Linked DNA regions of Homo sapiens. The protein of the gene in region 3 interacts with the protein of the main gene of each other region in a pairwise test. Each region holds a gene or a part of one and is shown on either strand. Other genes may lie near its edges.

Region 1 (7,028 bases), on a different chromosome or scaffold from region 3:
GGGGGTGGGTCTTTCCTGCACTGTTCTCATGATAGCGAATGAGTATCAGGAGATCTGACAGTTTTATTTATTTACTTTTTTTGAGACAGAGTTTCACTCTTTTTGCCCAGGCTGGAGTACAATGGCATGATCTTGGCTCACTGCAAACTCCACCTCCTGGGTTCAAGCGATTCTCTTGCCTCAGCCTCCCGAGTAGCTGGGATTACAGGGATGCGCCACCACGCCCGGCTAATTTTGTGTTTTTCATAGAGATGGGGTTTCTCCATGCTGGTCAGGCTGGTCTCGAACTCCCGATCTCAGGTGATCTGCTCGCTTCGGCCTCCCAAAATGCTGGGATTACAGATGTGAGCCACTATGCCCGGCTGGAGATCTGATGGTTTTAAAAACACAAGTCTCGCTGCACAAGCTCTCTCTTCTTGTCTGCTGCCATGTGAGATGTGCCTTTCACCTTCTGCCATGATTGTGAGGCCTCTCCAATCATGTGGAACACTAAGTCCATTAAATCTCTTTCTTTTGTAAATTGCCCAGTCTTGGGTATGTCTTTATCAGCAGCGTGAAAACAGACTAATACAGTAAATTGGTACCAGTAGAGTGGAGCACTGTTGAAAAGATACCTGAAAATGTGGAAGCAACTTTGGAACTGGCAGAGGTTGGAACAGTTTGGAGGGCTCAGAAGAAGGCAGGGAAATGTTGGACAGTTTGGAACTTCCTAGAGACTTGTTGAATGGCTTGGACCAAAATGCTGATAATGACATGGACAATGAAATCCAGGCTGAGGTGGTCTCAGATGGAGATGAAGAACTTGCTGGGAACTGGAACAAAGGTGACTCTTGTTATATTTTAGCAAAGAGACTGGTGGCATTTTGCCCCTGCCCTAGAGATGTGTGGAACTTTGAAGTTGAGAGATGATTTAGCATATCTGGTGGAAGAAACTGCCAAGCAGCAAAGCATTCAAGAGGTGACATGGGTGCTGTTAAAGGCATCCAGTTTTTTTTTTTTTTGAAATGGAGTCTCGCTCTGTCACCCAAGCTGGAGTGCAGTGGTACCATCTCGGCTCACTGCAGCCTTTGCCTCTCAGGTTCAAGCGATTCTCTGCCTTAACCTCCTGAGTAGCTAGGATTACAGGTGTGCACTGCCACACCCAGCTAAGTTTTGTATTTTTAGTAGAGACGGGGTTTCAACATGTTGGCCAGGTTGGTCTTGAACTCCTGGCCTCAAATGATCCGCCAGCCTTGGCCTCCCAAAGTGCTGGGATTATAGGCGTGAACCACTGTGCCTGGCCAAGGCATTCAGTTTTAAGAGAGAAACAGGGCATAAAAGTTTGGAAAATTTGCAGCCTGACAATGTTAAAGAAAAGAAAATTCCATTTTTTGAGGAGAAATTCAAGCTGGCTGCAGAAATTTGCATAAGTAACGAGGAGCCAAATGTTAATCCCCAAGACAATAGGGAAAATGTATCTGGGGCATGTCAGAGACCTTTGCGGTAGCCCCTCCCATCACAGGCCTGAAGATTTAGGAGGAAAAAATTGTTCCATGGGCAGGGCCCAGGGTCCCAGTGCTGTGTACAGCCTAGGGACTTGGTGTCCTGTGTCTCAGCCATTCCAGCCATGGCTAAAAGGGGCCAACATAGAGCTCGGGCTGTGGTTTCAGAGGATGGCCTTGGCAGCTTCCTTGTGGTGTTGATCAAGCCTGTGAGTGCACAGAAGTCAAGAATTGAGGTTTGGGAACCTCTGCCCAGATTTCAGAAGATGTATGGAAACACCTGGATGCCCAGGCAGAAGTTTGCTGCAGGGGCAGGCCCCTCATGGAGAACCCCTGCTAGGGCAGTGTGGAAGGGAAATGTGGGGTCGGATCCCCACTGAGAGTCCCTAGGGGCACTGCCTAGTGGAGCTGTGAGAAGAGGGCCACTGTCCGTCCTCCAGATCCCAGAATGGTAGATCCACTGACAGCTTGTACTGTGTGCCTGGAAAAGCTGCAGACACTCAACACCAGCTCATGAAAACAGCCAGGAGGGAGGTTGTATCCCGCAAAGCCACAGGGGCAGAACTGCCCAAGACAATGCGAACCCACCTCTTGCATCAGCGTGACCTGGATGTGAGACATGGAGTCAAAGACGATCGTTTTGGAGCTTTAAGATTTGACTGCCCTGATGGACTTCAGACTTGCACTGCCCCTTTGGGCCAATTCCTCCCATTTAGAACGGTTGTATTTACCCAATTCTTGTACATCCATTGTATCTAGGAAGTAACTAACTTGCTTTTGATTTTACAGGCTCATAGGTGGAAGGGACTTGCCTTGTCTCAGATGAGATGTTGGACTGTGGACTTTTGAGTTAATGCTGAAATAAGTTAAGACTTTGAGGGACTGTTGGGAAGGCAGGATTGGTTTTGAAATTCGAGAACAGGAGATTTGGGAGGGGCTAAGGATGGAATGATATGGTGTGGCTGTGTCCCCATCCAAATCTCATCTTGAATTGTAACCCCCACAATTCCCACATGTAGTGGGAGGAAGCCGATGGGAGGTGATTGAATTGTAGGGGTGGGTCTTTCCTGTGCTGTTCTCATGATAGTGAATGAGTCTCACGAGATCTCACAGTTTTAAAAACAAAAGTCTCCCTGCACAAGCTCTCTCTCTTGTCTGCCACCATGTGAGACCTGCCTTTCACCTTCCGCCATGACTATGAGGTCTCCCCAATCATATGGAACTGTAAGTCCATTAAATCTCTTTTGTAAATTGCCCAGTCTCAGGTATGTCTTTATCAGCAGTGTGAAAATAGACATCTCTTATTTTAAAGAGTACCAGCAAATTCTTATAAATTCAATCAATACTTAAATCAATACTTCAACTTTAGTCAAACACAGTGGTCTGACTGTATTCCATAAGTAAATAAAATATGCAAACCCAGCTTACTGAAGTAAGAGAAAGACCACACTAAGAGGAAGGAGACTTGGAAGTCTTAGCCCTGGCATCAAATCTGAGAAAAGTCACTTGAACATTTTAAGCTATAGCTTTCTCATCTCAAGTACCAGGTCAAATGGGAAAATATATGCTTCAAAGACTGCAAAATGATATACAAATAAATTATGACTAAAAGTATCTTTGGCCATAGCATTCAGATACCTGTTGACAAACAGCTAACACATTTAAAATGTGCTAGTCACAGCTCTCTCTTTTTTCTTTGTCTTGTGGTTTTTACAAACGGAAAAGTTTTTAAATAGGGAGGAAAAGAAGGAAGGCAGAAGGCAGTATAAATACTCATCAATAAAAAATGGACCATTTTAGAAATTGTGTACTTTTCTTTTGTCTGGTGAAGAGAGATCCGACCACAGACAAAATTACAAAAAACACACAGGACTTTTGCTTCATACATAAAATTGAGAAAAAAAAGTTTTTCCTGGAAGACTTTTCCAGGAAAACAGTATTCTGTTTCAACGTATGTATTTTTTTCACTCATTTCTTTTCTTAATAATTGTTTCAGACTTCACAGGAACACAAACAAAAACGAACCACTTTAACAAAAAGGAAATTCTTCTACCCAGAAAATTGTCTTTACAAAGGGTCAATTTTACACATTAATATAAAATATTTACCATTTCATAGTCTGGTACTTCCATCCGTTTTTTCAAACTCTGTACAAGGGGAACTAGTGATTCCATTCTGGAAAAAAGCCATCCCACTCAATTAAACATCACAACCACCACAACTAAAATGATAATAGCAAATTATACATTATACTAACATTTACCATAATAACATGCTTCATATGGCACTTGGGAAATAAAAGATAAAGCTGTTCAAATATCTTAAAATATTAAGAAATAAATGTTTCCTGTTTTCTTACCCAAAAGATTACACATTGTGTTAAAGACTAAAAGTGAGCATTCAAGAAAATGAGATTTCTTCTTCAAAAATGGGAAGTTCTACTGACTTTAAAAATTATTTTGAGGCCAGGTGCGGTGGCTCATGCCTATAATCCCAGCACTTTGGGAGGCCGAGGCGGGCGGATCACTTGAAGTCAGGAGTTCGAGACCAGCCTGGCCAATGTGGTGAAACCCTGTCTCGACTAAAAATACAAAATTAGCCAGGTGTGGTGGTGCATGCCTGTAATCCCAGCTATTCGGGAGGCTGAGGCAGGAGAATTGCTTGAACCCAGGAGGCGGAGTTTGCAGTGAGCTGAGGCCGCACCATTGCACTCCAGCCAGGGTGACAAGAGTGAAACTGTCTCAAAAAAAAAAAAAATTATTTTGATTAGCAAGAAAACTAAGTGTTTTTAGCACACTGTGATGAAAAAAGGCTGTTTCCTGAAAGCTAAAAAAAAAAAAAAAAAATTAAGGACACGTTTATTTGTATATACAATTATTATTACTATTGAGACAGGATCTCACTACCACCCAGGCTACAGGGCAGTGGTGTGATCATGGCTCACTGCAGCCTCGAACTCCTGGGCTTAAGGAATCTCCCACTTCAGCCTCCCGAGTAGCTGGGACTATAAGTGAACACCACCACACCCAACTAATTTTAAAATCTTTTTGTAGAGATAGGGTCTTGCTATGTTGCCCAGACTGGTCTTAACTCTTGGCCTCAAGTAAGCCTTCCACCTTAGCCTCCCAAGTGTTGGGATTTTACAGGTGTGAACCCAGGCCTAGCCAGTAAATACAATTATAATCGGAAAAATCCTACATCATCTGATATAACATTGATGCATTTTTTTTTTTTTTGAGACAAGAGTCTCACTCTGTTGCCCAGGCTGGAGTGCAGTGGCACGATCTCGGCTCACTGCAAGCTCCGCCTTCCAGGTTCACGCCATTCTCCTGCCTCAGCCTCCCAAGTAGCTGGGACTACAGGTGCCCGCCACCACGCCCGGCTAATTTTTTTTATTTTTTAGTAGAGACGGGGTTTCACCGTGTTAGCCAGGATGGTTTCGATCTCCTGACCTCATGATCCGCCCGCCTTGGCCTCCCAAAGTGCTGGGATTACAGGCGTGAGCCATCGCGCCCGGCCACATTGATGCTTTTAAGGTATTAAGTTTAGGTGGACCTTTTGGAAGCTCTGATTGGCTAATGCTTCTAGTGTTTTAATTCCTCCTCCACAAATATTCACGAATTTGCTGGGAGTAAAAAAAGAAAGAAAAAAGGAGGCATGGAGGCCTGCCTGCTTGCCCACTTGTCCTGTTACTTTTTCCTTTTAATTAATGACATTTTCTAGGCTTCTGGACCCTAAACACCCACCTCACTTCCCTAGACATAGCGAAGCCTCCATGCCGAGGGTCTGGCTCTTTAGGGTCATGGTTGGTTTGGGGAGACTTTTCTTTCAGTGTCATCTACTTTTCCTTTATGCTATTTTTTTTCTCCCTTCAATACCAAGCACAGTCTAAACTCACTACTGTTGCAGTCTCATCATATTTTCAAGTCTGTGATAGAACTCTCTGCTGGTGATGAGGAGCTAACTGGGCATGCTCAGTAGGCAGAGTGGGTTTCAGTGGAAGTCTGTGGGCTGGACTTAGGATTCCAAGGTTTCCAGGCCTATTTTGTTGTTGTTGAAGTTTTAAACTTAGCTTGAGACTTCATGAAATAACAAAATAATAGGTATTTTTCAGTATTTCTAGGAAGACTCCTGTCCTGTGACTTATTTTTCTATCTCCCTCTTCTATCATTTCAAAAAACAGGGAATCATTTTAGAACCCTATACTGAAGAGGAAAAAGCATTAACTGATTTTTTTTTCTTTCTTTTTTTGAGACAGGGTCTCCCTCTGTCACCCAGGCTGGAGAGCAGTGGTGCGATCTCAGCTCACTGCAGCCTTGACCTCCCAGGCTCAAGTGATCCTCCCACCTCAGCCTCCCAAGTAGCTGGGGCCGCAGGTGCATGCCACCATGCCTGGCTAATTTTTTGTATTTTTTTGTAGAGACAGGATTTCACCATGTCACCCAGGCTGGTCTCGAACTCCTGAGCTCAGGCGATCTGCCCACCTTGGCCTCCCAAAGTGCTCAGATTACAGAGGTGAGCCACCACGCCCGGCCATTAACTGATGTTAAAGTGCCTAATCAATACTTACTGATGTGATTAATATTACTGTGAATTATTCTTCCACATCACTGCTTTGTTAGTGTCAATAATTAAAGCTTTATGATGTTTACATTTTAGGGATGTTTCTGAATATTTTAAGTAAAAATTACAATGAGTATTTTGAATAGATAATACGTGCACATAGCAAAAGAAGTAATTTCTCACTCATATACTTCATCATTTAGCCATAGAATTCCTCTCCCCAGAGGCAACCACTGTTTCAGCTTTTTCCATATTCTTCTAGAGATCTGCTGAATTATTTTTAATAACCAAAACATGACAAATCTTAGTGGCTGTTCATGTTCTGGCCTAAAGTACTATTGATTCTAATTTCCCGTTTTATCTTGCTACCTTACAACTGATTTTCTTTTGTTTACACCAGAGAGAATAATATGACAGTTCGTGGGAGATTAGTTTTAAAATAAGCTAGTTCTGGTTTTCCTATGCTCATGGGGACAAAAAGTTTGTCTGATGGTTTTATTTTAGTTTTCTGGCTGTTTGAGATTACATGATTTAAGAATTATTTTAGAGAAAAATCACTGTAATATTTATGTCAATATTCTTTCACTCCAGCTTCAATACCAAAGGCTTTCACTCAAAAAGAACTTCTCTCTCCATTCTTTCAAGGTGATATGAACAGCCAGTCAAATAAATTACCTGATGGAGAATCTAGCCTTCAAATACTGCTCCTTCACGTCAAGAGATTGAAAATACCCTTCCACTTGTGTTTGGGTTTTCCTTAAAAGAAGCTAAGTTTTCGCTTTTTTTTTTTGAGACGGAGTCTCAGAAAAAGTCCAGTCTCCACAGGCTGGAGTGCAGTGATGCAATCTCGGCTCACTGCAAGCTCCGCCTCCCGGATTCACGCCATTTTCCTGCCTCAGTCTCCCGAGTAGCTGGGACTACAGGCGCCCACCACTATGCCCGGCTAATTTTTTTTTTTTTTTGGTATTTTTAGTAGAGACTGGG
Region 2 (7,028 bases), on a different chromosome or scaffold from region 3:
CTGAGACTGATGGTCTGAAGGAGTACCTGGTCTAGCAGATGATGATGAGGTCTGGGGAGTTTCCTCACTAGCTTCTGGAACACGAAGTAATCTTAGTTGAACTTACGAAAGTTTTGGTTTGATGGAGGAAAAAAAAGGCAAAGGGCAAGAAGAGGCCTTACCAACTCCTACTCTATCTGTTTTCTCTCCTTCTTTCTTATTTGTCTTATCGGGTTCTTTGGCCTCTTCATTATGGCTACCCTCAGAGTCAGAGCACTCCTCCCCTTCGTCCACAGGCCGGAAGTCCATCTCCTGCTCTTCTGGAATAGGCTCTTTCTGTACTTTCTGTAGAAAGAGAATAAAACCAAAGATCAACAGCAGATTTGGCTTTGGTATAAGGTTAATGCTGGTCATGACATTTAAAACACGTTTCTTACTTTTAGAGAAAGGAATGCTCCAGATGAGTCAAATGTACCCATTTCTTCTTCAGCATCCTCTAAGCACCATTCGGGCAAGCTATCCCTGTCATCATCTATGCTCCCACTGCCAGAGCGAACCCTTCGGTAACCCCGTTCATCATCTCTATCTCGAAAATCAAACTCAAACCTCCGACGTCGTTCCATGTGTTCCCGCCAGCCTGCAGAACGAGGGCCATCTGAGATGAGAAGGAGGACACAAACCTTAGAAAAGTTTTATGACAGTATTTGAATAAGAAAATCAGGAATAGAAAATAAAGGAGAAAACTACAAGTGACCGCAAACTCAAATGGACTGACCTAGTAAAGAGAACATTAGGCAACTAAATGAAGTTCAGAGTTCAGAGTATATGTACCATTACGAGATGACAACAGTACTTAAGTACTGAGCCAGGCAACATACTCTAAAGCTTTAAAAGATAAATCTAAAATGCAGTACATTTAAAGGACACTGTATTCCAAGTACGCACTTTCAGTAAGTCCTAGGTACTTGATTAAAATACTGATTAGCCGCCAACTCCTCATCCAGACTTAATGCACTAGACATCCTTCCATACTGAAGTTTACACCTTCCTTTTGCCCAATCTTAAAGCATTTTCTTTCTTCCCATGAAAATATCATTGTTTGTGGATAAAATCAGCTCCCTGTGTTGACTTATATCAAACTCATCATGACTATTTATTAATGCCAGGTTCCCACTTGTAATTCTGATCCTCCCCCAAAAATTCACAAAATTACAGTGCTGAAAGTTGTCACAGAGATTTTATGAAGTTCACTATCCTAATTTTATAGTTTAAGAAGAAACTAAAACTTTGCCAGCAGAAGTAACTCGCACATGGCAAAGTAGAACTAAAATCCAATTCTGCACCCTCTGCTGCTTGTTCCACAATAACATACTTACTCCTCTCCCTTCTTTCTCATCTCTTAATTCTCCCTATCCATATAATACCCCTACGGACATTCCCAAATCTACATTTCCCAACAGAAGAAAAGATTGCCTAATAATAAGAGATCCTACTTAAGATATTTTTCTAAAAAAAAGAAAGGGAAACTCTTGCTAAAATCTGACAGACCTGAGTCTAAAAGAGTCTTAAAAAGAAAAGCAGGCTTTAACCTATTAGAATTTTCCATCCTTGACTGCTTTCTCTGTGGGGGATAAGAAAAAGAAATGTGGCCAGAGTTAAATGTTCTCACTATTGAGACAAACTTTGCAAAAACCAGCAATCTAAAAATCAAATTGGAAAACAAAGGGCAAAACGTTAAAATGCCAAATACAGGTAGCATCTGATAAGCCACTCACAAAAAAGAAATCTTAGTCCCACACTCCCATCCCTTCATATAAAAACAACAAAACACTATTTACTACTTCCTATGAGAACTAAGGAATTTTATACTCAGACTGCTTACGTGGAAACCTAGAGCCATTATGTGAAAAGAGTCTTCATGATCAAATGAATTCCAGAGCCCTCTGTACTGCTTTCATTTCTAACAGTCTAAATGTACATCATGACAGGAATCTATCCTTCTAGGTACCTGGCTCATGTTTCTCCTCTTACTGACTTTCCTAGGTTCAGCTCCCAGACTGGATGCCTCCCTGTCCTTAATGTTCCCACCCCCACGCACATCCAGCCGGAAGCCCTATTTTATATCCCATAATGTTATCTTATCAGTAGTTCATAAAATTTTACTCACGAAACTAAACATAGCAAGTAAGACATGCAAGGTACTTATTAAGGCTGACTGCTGATTTACAGACCCTACATCTAAACTAAAGTTGGATACTATTTTCATAAAATCAGTTAAAATAATTTAAAGTTTTACTCAAATCTTAATAAAAGATTAACCATAAACTAACAAACGTTAAGAGTTAACATATGAAAACTGCTATAATCAGGCTATACTTTGAATATACTGGGTTTAAAAAGTGAATCGTATTCTTTTTTAAAATGCATTTACACTGTTTTTTCAGACCCAAACTTTATATTTGGGGGATCTTTATATCCCCCAAACTGTCTTTTAAAAATATATGGATTTCAGCCACAGGTGTGACTGAAAAAATATATATGTATATGGATTAAAAGTTCTGGAAGATACACAAGTTGATGACAAAAATGATATGAAAGTCAAATATTAGGGGGAAAGAAAGATTCAGAAAAGATGAGAAGAAGATAATATATAACCAAATTCTAAGTTGTTGGGTGGGAGGTACTTTGTTAAACTCCCTTTAATAGAATCAACATCAGACATTTGGGCTCAAAAAACACAGTTCATCTTCCAAAACATTCACCTTGTTTGTTTTTGACCAGCTGGAATTTCTTTTCTCTCTCAGCCCAGATCCTATCCATTCTTCACTGAATGCTTGTTGGGAACATAGTCTACAAACCCTCTGCCTACGGACAAGCTCAGCATAAAATGCAGTGATGCCTTTTAGAGAACTATAACATCTGGCCCAGGTCACAGACTAATGAAAATTGTCTAGACCTTGTGATGTAAACAATGCCCACTAATGACAGAAAACCCACCCAAGAGGCAGCCATGAAGAGTTGGTATAAAACCATCCTAACTCTACCCAAACATTAACTTCAGTATGTTTCTATCTACCTACCACTTCCTTAAAATACTCTGAATGCCTGTTATAATGTCTACCCAGATCTAAGCTAGTGGTTTTGCTAATAACTTGATTTTTAAAAGTGAAAACAGTTTACTTATCATAATTTCCTGTATTAAAGGTAAGCCCCTCTGGCACATGGTTGATAAAATACTGTCATACACATGAAATTCATAGGGCATTCCACATATACTCTGTGTGCTTCAGTTTTGCATGACCCCACAATTGGAACTACAGTTGCATCTGATTATCATGAGGCATGGAATCAGCACTGTGGTACAGGATGAACTTTAACACAAAGCACTAGTGTCTTCAATTACTAGCATATCTAATGTCCAAGAAGAACAGTTTGAGCATTTTTAAGAGACAAACAGAAGAACTTTAAAAGCCACTAATCACTACTATTGTCTCTCCTTCTTCTAAAGTTAGAAGGACATAAGAATGAACTTGTGATTATGTTTCTGACCTAGGTTTAAAGCTTATTCTTCAAATAAGGTTAAATCACATTTTCAAAAGGGAAAAAATGAAAGAATAAACCCTTTCTTGTTAGGAAAAACACTCATTGTTGGGGAGGGAAGCACATATTTCAAGTGTGTAATTTTTACACATTTATAAATCTTAAAGAATGCTAAAAAAGATTCAGAGATTTAGAGGTAGACAAAACTGAATGAAACCCTCATTTCTGCAGTTGAGCGCAGGTGCTTCCCATTAAACTACACTATTTGCCCCAGAAAAATAGAAAAGTGATTTCAATCAACTGAATAGATGTAGGAAATTTTTATGTTGCAATTTTTTCTAGTAATAAAACTGTGACAGCATAAATAATATGAATCCACCCCCACATTTTTTAAGCCAGTTTATCTTTTTCATTTAATCCCTATTTCCATCAAACTTTCCCTTATTTCAGTCCCTGTGTGCCTTTACTCAACAGAATTCTTACCAGGACTGTGAGGTCGCCACCTCTCTCCATCCCTCCTTGATCCAGCTAGTCGCCAACCTCCATCTTCATCTTCTCCATTTTGTTCCTCTCTAAAGATGCGCCAATTTTCACTTTCTGAGCGTATAAATTCATGCTTTCTCCCTACTGATGTTGGTCCACCTTCCTCAAAATTTGGTCTCCCTATAAAGAAAATAATATGGTAAGTAAACATGAGCCTCTGCCAGTATAGGCTTTGAAAACAAACTTCACAGCTCAAATCAAGCTTTCCTGCAAATGGGTCCATTTCAATATTCAGAAAAAAATCACTAAAATAACAGTGGGTATATGTATATATTATTAGACACATTTCTTAAAGCCATGTTCAGAGACTGGGCAATTTTTTTAAACAAAAATATTATGTAAAATTTTTTTTGAAAAAGCGTACAATGAAAAGTCCATCTTCCTACACAAGACCCTCAGAGTCGTACTCCCCAGAAGGAACCATCACCAAGTTTCTTATAAAGTCTTTCCAAACACTGTCCATGGGTACACTTACACATGTATACATAGCTCCCTCATCCACACACACAAACGCCACCCTCAGGATGTTATAAATGTTGTTTTGTTTGCTGTTTTCACTAACAGTGTATCTTGCCAATCCTTCCTTACTAGCACATACTTTTTAAAGTTATAAGATATTTTTCATCATACAACATACTTTATATAACCAACACCTACTGGTGATTCTGCCTAAACATGATATCTGTACATTTCAGGCCGTCTTTCATTCCAAAACAGATTATAAACTGAAAAGCAGGCCGCGTGGTGGCTCACGCCTATAATCCCAGCACTTTGGGAGGCCGAGACAGGTGGATCACGAGGTCAGGAGTTGGGAGACCAGCCTGGCCAATGTGGTGAAACCTCATGTCTACTCAAAATACAAAAATTAGCTGGGTGTGGTGACAAGTGCCTGTAATCCCAGCTACTCAGGAGGCTGAGGCAGGAGAATGGCTTGAACCCAGGAGGCGGAGGTCGCGGTAAGCAGAGATCGCGACACTGTACTCCAGCCTGGGTGACAGAGCAAGACTCCGTCTCAAAAAAAAAAATTGAAAAGTAGTATAACCTCATTTACTCTAGCACCTAATACAATACAGGCATACCATAAATTGCTTTTGGACAGAATTTAAAGCTAAGCTATGTCTAACCTAATGTCTCAAAAGTTACATTAATGTCAAAAGAGAGCCTGGTATACCAAGTAAACTAAACTGGTATTTTAAAAGGACAAGATCATTCTAAATTGTGCAAACAAATTCTTCAGTCACCATTCCACATGTGCTAACATATATAACTCATAACATTTATAAAATCTCACATCAAAATAGTTGAAAATCCAGAATAACATACATTGATGTCCTCAGTTTATAACAATAAAAGTTCAAGTTCTCATAATGACAAACTCAATCCTTTTAATTAATCCATACTAAAAGTGAAAAAATAATTGAACAACAGCATATGAAAATGAAATTCTAATTTCTGGTCATTCTGTTATATTCCATCTTACATATATTGAGATTCAGCATCCTGCTTGTCCATATGGTTGTTAGTCTGCTACTAGGTATCATTCTACTGAAAGATAAAATATCTTGGGAGAATGGAAGACATGATCTGCTGCTTTCTTATTGTGGTGGACAGCCTCTAAGAGCTCACCAACAATCCCTGACTGCTGATCTCTGTGGAATCCTCTACCCCCAATTATAAGCTGGACTAACAGAATGCAGCTGAAGTGATGAGATGCCACTTAAAATATTAAAGAAGACTGTAGTTTCCATCTTGGACACTTTCTCTGAAGGACACTAGTTGCCATGTAGTGACACAGACCTCGTGGAGAAGCTTGCATGGCAAAGAACTGAGACTTACCACCAGAAACATGAGTGAGTCTGGAAGTGGATCAAACCCCAGTTGAGCTTTGAGAGACTGCAGCATGGGCTGACACCTTGAGTGCAGCCTTACAAGAACCCTGGGCCAGAACCACCCAGCTAGGCTAAGCTGCTTCTAGATTCCCAACCCACAGAAACTGAGATAATAAATGTTTGCTGTTTTGAACCACCAAGCAAGGGTTTTATTATCTATGACCTTGCTCTTACCTGCAGGACGTGTCTGGAATGTCAGAACTATATTCTGGCTTTCCTTGGTTTATTAGTCCATTTTGCATGGCTATAAAGGAATACCTGAGGCTGGGTAATTTATTAAAAAAAAAAAAAGAAGAAGAAGTTGTTTATTTGGCTCGTGGTTCTGCAGACTATACAAGCATGGCACCAGCATCTGTCTGGCTTCCAGTGAGACCTCAGGAAGCTGTTACTCATTGTGGAAGGTGAAGTGAGAGCAAGTATGTCACATGGTGAGAGAGGGAGCAAGAAAGATGACAGAGATCCCAGACTCTTGAACTCATTACAGTGGGGAGGGGATGAGGGATCCACCCTCATGACCCAAACACCTCCCACCAGGCCCCACCTCCAACACTGGCGATCACATTTCAACATGTGATCTGGAGGGGACAAACATCCAAACTATATCACTTGGTTTACCAGAGAAGTCATAATCTAAATCTATTGTAGTTATTATGTAATATCTGATATATCAAAAACCATATTGCAGCTTTTATAAATTATTTTGTGGCCAGGCGCGGTGGCTCACACCTGTAATCCCAGCACTTTGGGAGGCTAAGGCGGGCAGATCACGAGGTCAGATCAAGCTAACACGATGAAACCCCATCTCTACTAAAAATAGAAAAAATTAGCCGGGCGCGGTGGCGGGCGCCTGTAGTCCCAAGCTACTCAGGAGGCTGAGGCAGGAGAATGGCATGAACCTGGGAGGTGGAGCTTGCAGTGAGCCCAGATCACGCCACTGCTCTCCAGCCTGGGTGACAGAGCAAGACTCCGTCTCAAAAAAAAAAAAAAAAAAAAAGAAATTATTTCGTGTAAGTAGCTAGAACCTCAGGCACATGCCACCACACTCAGCTAAATTTAAAATTTCATTTTATTTAATTT
Region 3 (7,028 bases):
TGCTGTTGAATAGTTATACCTTTTACCCCAAAGTGAACTTTATTACATAGACATTTTTATTACATACAGTTTAATGCTTTTCCTCATAAACATCCACTGAGTACTTACTGTGTCAAAAACTTTCAAAATTTTAATATATAAGATGAACACAGCTATGATCCCGACTTCCAAAGATTTCAGAGTACTCTCACAGATTCATTAATAAATTAGGACCTTCAGCTTGTTTTCTCTTTATTGATCAATACCATGAATCCTTCATCTGCACATACCTGACTTCTTTTCTTCATTGTTGTCTCTCTCACCATTATCACGGTGCACAAATTCATCCCCGTCACTTTCTCCATCTGATTTGTCGGTGTCACTGTCATCAGTACTGTCATCATGCTTATCTTGATCCATGTCCTCAGGATAGCCATCATCTTCACTGGTGCTAGAAACATCATCATCATGACCTCGCTGGGCTGAAAAGTGGGAAGGGAACATGGAGAAGTAGTATGATTGGACCCTCCACTACATGGTACCCAGAAATACAGAAAATTATGCTATTCAACTCAGACTGTAACAACTTAATTCTTACCAAAAAAAAAAAAAAAAAATTCTTGTATATATAGCTACTCATACAGTCTAACAAAATTTTCCTCTGCCAATAATTTTAAACACTTCTTTTTGGTAATTTAAGATTTTTTTAAAAAGAGTTCTAATTTGAAAACCCATTTCCTCCTTTAGCAACAATCATGTTTGTATACACATACACAGTCAGTGAATGTATACAATGACGCTCTAGTCTGATGACAATAAAGCTAAAAGGGAACCAGATATACAAGTCTTAAAGGATTAGCAGCAAGAGTGACATCTCCAGGAAAAGCCTAATTTAAAACACGATAAACATTTCTATACTTATGTATGATGCTTTTACTTGAGAAGATCCTATGATTTATCCAACTGTATGTATATTAGTTATGTACATGATACCCTCTCATTTACTTTCTAAGTTCTGAGGGTGGTGAACAATATGTTAAACAGGGCCAACATAAAAAATGATAGTTATAAAAGCAAAAGAACAGTCACTTCTCACCAAGTTCAGGACTATATAACATGTCTTCATCTCGCCTACGAGGGGGAAGATCTAGGGCAAAACCCACTTTACGGCCATACATCTGCACGACTTGAGGAGGAGGTGGACCAGGGGGAGGGCCAGGAGGTTTTCTGCCAGGGGGCAAACGTGGAACACCATGTCCAAGAAGAGGAAGGATAGAAACTGCCCGAGTTGGAGGTCTGTTAAAAAAAAAAACAAAAACAAAAAAACCCCCACAGTAATCACTTAACAGTAATGAGATATTTATTTTCTCTTCTAAACAATTTTCAAGGGATTTCTTATTTTACATTTAATCAAATGTCACACTGTTTACATCCATATTGTCTTTTATTTCCCTCTGCATTAATTTTGGCACTGGACAGTCAACTTGTGCCTTTACTAAATGCTCTCTGATTGTGACACTGCTTCCTTACCCATAGGCTGAGGTTTTCTTTAGGATAGAGGGTGGCTGGGCACCAGGAAGTGGAATGTCCTGGATCAAAATGTTGGAAGGAGCATGTGGCATATCTGGCAAAGGAATACTCTCCACTTCCACATGCTGAGCATTCTGAAACAGAGAACCATTCAGTAGTATGATAAAAAAGTCATCTACTAACTAAACACTAAAAATGACAAGTCAGCTGTTTCGTAACTTGGACATGCTTTCCAACTAACATAAATATCACCAAAAACCCCCAGAAAAATAACCTTACGTCAATACTTCCACATTGTCAAAGAACTGAAAGAAATCTTTACTTCTAAAAACGTCAGAACCCAGCTGTTTTTTTTCTCCTCTTATCAGGTAATTCTTTTTGGATGATTCGAAACAGCTGTTGTCTAGAGAAAGCCAACTGTTACAAGTATCTAGCACCAGAACTACCCTATTTAACATGTGATAGAAAAATACATGTCAGGCTGGGCGTGGTAGCTCACACCTGTAATCCGAGCATTTTGGGAGGCTGACGCAGGTCGATCACAAGCTCAGGAGTTTGAGACCAGCCTGGCCAATATGGTGAAACTCCATCTCTAATAAAACTACAAAAATTAGCCAGTTGTGGTGGCGTGTGCCTGTAGTCCCAGCTACTCAGGAGGCTGAGGGAGGAGAATTGCTTGAACCTGGGAGGCAGAGGTTGCAGTGAGCCAAGATGGTGCCACTGCACTCCAGCTTGGGCAACAGAGTGAGACTCGGTCTCAAAAACAAAAAATAAACAAAAAAAAGAAAAATAATATATGTCAACTAACAAATAGTATATATCCAGTGGTGGAGGTTGGGCTCATTAGCTTGCCTATGTTGAATTTCTGTTGTGTATTAGCTTAGTTTGACTAAGCAAGGTAACCTGTGCCTTCATCTGTAAAATGGGAGACATATTACCTCCTTTACAGAAATTATAGCATTTGATTTTTTCCCATCTTTATTTTGAGGTAAAATTTACGAAATTTACAAATTCAGTAAGTTTTGACAAATGCATATACCTCATACTCCTTCCCAATCCATCTCTAATATCATCCCCCAAGGCAACCACGGCTACATTTTTTTTTCCTGCACAGATTATCTGTGACTATTCTAGAATTTCATAAAAATGAAATCATAACAATGAGATAAACTTAGCATGTTTTTGAGATTTACTCACAATTTTTCTTTTTTTATTCCATGCTGTTTTGAGTATTAGATTATTCCTTTTATTGCTGAATAGTATTCTATTGTATAAATATGCTACAGTTTAATTATCCATTATCCTATTAGTGAACACTTAGGCTGATCCAAGTTTTTGAATTAATTTCTTCTGTTTAAATAAAGAGGATTAGATTTGCAGGTTCACACAGTAGGTATATGTTTAGTTTTAGAAGAAACTGCTATAAGGAAGAGGTTCAACATGACATTCTCCCATTAACTTTTTAAATCTAAGTATAGGCTGAGCATCCCTAATCTGAATATCTAAAATGCTCCAAAATCCTAAACTTTTTGACTCCCATATGATGCCATGGTGGAAAAATCCACACCTGACCTAATGTGATGGGTCGTAGTTTTGTTTCATGCACAAAATTTATAAAATTATCTTCAGGCTATGTGTATATGAAACATAAATTTCATGCTTAGACTAGGGTTCCATCCCCAAAATATATGCAAATATACACAAAAACAAAACAAAATATAAAAAAAACCCAACAACCCTAAATCCAAAACACTTCTGGTCCCAAGCACTTTGCATAAGGGATACTCAATCTGTATAATATTTTAGTTTATCTCTCAAAAAAAAAACCTTGATTACCTTGACAGCATCAAAATATTGGCTAAGTTGAGCCCTCTTCTGTTCATATTCTACTTCTAGCTTTCTCAATTCTTTGTAAATATCTGGATTCTCTTTTTCATAGAGTCGTAGAATACGTTCAAAGGTTTCACGCAGCTTTTTACGCTTGTCTTTCAGTACTTTCTCATTTAATTGTGGCTGTTGCACTGGGTTAAACTCTAAGAGAAAAAGTAGATTATGGAATTAAATATAAGAGGCCACTTCAATTAGGTATCAATAGGTTACATGATAAAAACCTCCATATATGCTAAAAAATTTTTAAGAGATCTAGACACCAGACATACTCTTTTCAATTTTATTCGAAGAACTACAATATTTATTAAAATCCCCACCCTTTTTAGATGGCCACTAATTTTACCTTTCTCAGAAATGCCACCTAATTGACTTTCATCTTCATTGTAATAAAAATCAATTTTCACTGCTCTGTGCTGAAAACCTCGTGAAGATTCTGTCAGATTTGTGTTTACCTACTACGTTAGTCCTGTCAAATTTTGAGATCTTAAGCATTTTACTTGAATTCTCTGATTTTTTGCTTCCTCATCTAAAAAATGGAGACGTTAATCACTTTGTAATAAAGCTATGATGATACAATGGGATTACAAATAAAATATCCAGTGGTGTTTGACTCACCACTTAACTATAATCTTTATAACAGATCCGTATTCCTGGCCTAGCTACTATACAATCCTTTCTCTCCCTAACTAATCATGTGTCAATATGGGGCTTAACTGCAGGTCCTCTATCCCAAGAATAAGACCTCCAGGCCTGCCTGGTCAATCATATCCCCCCATCTTCCTTTTCAGTGAATGACTCAGAGATCAATTAGCACATGATCCAAACTGGGACCAGAACATTCCCTGAGATTTTAAATGTAGATGTGAGAGAGATAAGCTCTCAGATTTTCTTTCTGAATGTGTTATGTAGAGAGAAAACAAACCTAGAGCTGCCTGTGGCCTTGTCTCTCAATCATCACTAATTACACACATATATTCCACCTTCTATCCCAAGGAGTTCATTAGTAGTAAGCTGAATGAGGCTAACAGACATCAGACTAGACAGATGGACAGTACTGATGATGAGACTGGATTTTGAGGCTAGTTTCTCTCAGGGATTTCTCATCTTTTTTTTATGTTAAGACTTCTTAATTAAGACAGCCAATGCATGCTTTTTTCTGCCTTAACTAGTCTGTATTGAGTTTTATAAATTGTAACTAGACCCCTGATGAATAGTATTCTCTTCACCCCTTTCCTTTTTCTTAAAAGAATAACAAATTTATCTTCTTCCTTAAATCCTATTAACTATTATTAATCTTGGCAATTTATTCAAATCCAGAGGGCGTATTCTTACACCATACTAATCCTAGTGTGATTAGTAAAAGCGCTGAATGCCTGAGTTTTAATCTCAGCTTTGCCACTACATAGCAGTGTGACCTTGAGGAAAGCTATGTAATCTCTCCATGCCTGAGTTTTCTTACCTGTATAATAGGGACAGTGCACCTACCCTAAAAAATTGTGACGATTAGAAAACTGGTGGAAAAAAACTGGTGCGTAGGTGTATAGCAAGACAACTACTCAAGAAACCTCAGTTATTCCTATTATCTCCTTTTAAAACAACACATAACATTTGGGGTCATTTAAAGAAGGATTCCCTGATTCCCCAAGGAAAGTAATTATCCCTGCTGATATTTAGACCAGAGGCAGGAAGTGGAATCAGTTACAACTGAACTGGGAAATATCTGGGATCCTGAAGCCTGACCCAGAACTCTTAGCCAGGCTAGCTGCACAGATTCTCCCACATTATTTCAGAAACCTTGTAATAGCCTAATGCCATGACTGAATTTTTTTTTTGTACCCCATTTAATGTATCATTGAGGAGTTTCATTCCATCTCTTTTACTTACTACTCTGTTTTTGGGCAAAACATGGAACTTGTAACGATCACTTTAAAATGCTATTTTACAAAAGTGGCAAAGGGTAGAAGACAAAGTGGCAGAAACTTGACAGGTGAAAAGCACATGGAAGTTAACTAGACTATTTTATTTTCTTGCATGTTTGAAAATTTCTATTAAAAAAACAAAATATTCTACATGTTCTAATATTAAACAGAATGGATATTTGTGGGTTAGGATAAAATTTCCAGTGGCAACATCAATGATTTTCAAACTTAGATGCAAAAAAAGATAACATGCAGCTATTTCATGTGATTCCAGTTATAACAAAGCAGCGATACTTAAAATGCATATGAAGAGTGAATAAAACTATTCTATAAAATGTGAAAAAGGCAGAGAATCCTGGTATAGTATTTTATTATTTGGTTTTTAGGTATTTGATGATTTTTTTCTATATCCTTACTAAATGGATAAGTATCTTTTTGGATCTTCTGATTGGAAAAATTGGAAATTGCCTTATATTCACAGGGGCCTAATACTTAGATTTACATGGTAGTTGCCAACATTAAATAAAAGACGACAAACAAAAAACCCAAGGTTATTTCATAAATCAGATTAAGTCTTCTCCCAAAAAGCAAGCTGGCCAAACTGTGCTTCTGTTATCTCACAATAACAATTAACTGAAAGCCAAATAATCGCTTCCCTCTTATTCTGGTATCTGGGGTCTCCAGTTTGCAACAGCCCTCTAGCACTCCATTTTGTCTCCCTGAAACTAACATTAAATCCAAGCATCAAATGCCATCATGCTGTTCTGTTTTACTTACGCCTATGCTGCTTCACTCGTTACCTGCCTGCCTCTGTACGTGTCAGACTGTTATAGCTGCCTGTTTGTAAATTCTTACCCATTTCATCCAATTTCTCCATGTCTCGGATTATCTGTTTTGGATCCTTCATCTTTAAAACTGCAGCTCGAACCATCATGCGCTGTTTTTTGTTCTTAGAAAAATAAAAGGGCAGATGTCAAGAAGTCAGGCACTCAGGAGTTTTACTTCAACTTGCTTTAAGAATCTAAACAGAATAACTCCTTGGCTTCTGATCACTTGTTTCAACCACCAGAAACAGCTATGTAATTTTTTGCCTTAAAAATGTTTACACTTGTCAAAAAGATAAAGAAATGCTATTTTTAAGATGTGCTTTCTTAGTAAAGTATTTCTTTGAACTCTGAGATCTTTAGCAGTTACTTAAACACACATACACTTTAAATTTCTTTTTTTTAACCCCTTATGTTCTTGAAGACCTTGGGTGATTGTTCCTGCCCCCTGTTGTAAAACCTCTGCTAGTTGAAGTCCAAAGCAAAGGTTGAAGCTAAATTCTAAAATTATATAAAGAATATTTAAAAATTTTGCAGGAGTTAATGCTAAACATGAAAACACAATCGAACATTATTTAAAATCTGTGTTGCTTCAATGTATTATACTATAATACTATAAAGCACAATACTATAAGGCAAATCCTTTCTAATTCTTTTGAAGTACTTTGCCACAAATTCAACAGCTAAGAGGAGAATGCTAATTGGGAAAATGGATATATAAATCTAATATATCTATAAATATTATAAACCTACATATATATATTTAAGCTAATGTAATATATGTAATAGACAGCTAATCAGGAAAATGGATAAAGCTATCTAGCATCATGTTTATTTCCATCCTCATCAGTAGACTTTAAAACAGTTATGTTTTAATGAGTAAAAA

Evidence for each region. The genes of interacting proteins can lie anywhere in the genome.
Region 1: the proteins of WBP11 (region 3) and C5orf22 interact in binary tests that used the Homo sapiens proteins (3 or more experiments, as listed by UniProt).
Region 2: the proteins of WBP11 (region 3) and GIGYF2 interact in a two-hybrid assay, tested with the Homo sapiens proteins (one study listed by IntAct).

Annotation. Positions count from the first base shown.
Region 1 is NC_000005.10:31,542,274-31,549,301, reverse strand, and holds part of C5orf22 (UPF0489 protein C5orf22), read right to left. Parts: intron 3,657-7,028; coding exon 3,590-3,656; intron 813-3,589; coding exon of another isoform or gene 615-812; intron 1-614.
Region 2 is NC_000002.12:232,784,304-232,791,331, reverse strand, and holds part of GIGYF2 (GRB10-interacting GYF protein 2), read right to left. Parts: intron 4,183-7,028; coding exon 4,003-4,182; intron 635-4,002; coding exon 417-634; intron 325-416; coding exon 162-324; intron 75-161; coding exon 1-74. UniProt on the Homo sapiens protein: Key component of the 4EHP-GYF2 complex, a multiprotein complex that acts as a repressor of translation initiation. In the 4EHP-GYF2 complex, acts as a factor that bridges EIF4E2 to ZFP36/TTP, linking translation repression with mRNA decay.
Region 3 is NC_000012.12:14,793,462-14,800,489, forward strand, and holds part of WBP11 (WW domain-binding protein 11), read right to left. Parts: intron 6,268-7,028; coding exon 6,174-6,267; intron 3,543-6,173; coding exon 3,346-3,542; intron 1,644-3,345; coding exon 1,510-1,643; intron 1,276-1,509; coding exon 1,076-1,275; intron 462-1,075; coding exon 270-461; intron 1-269. UniProt on the Homo sapiens protein: Activates pre-mRNA splicing. May inhibit PP1 phosphatase activity.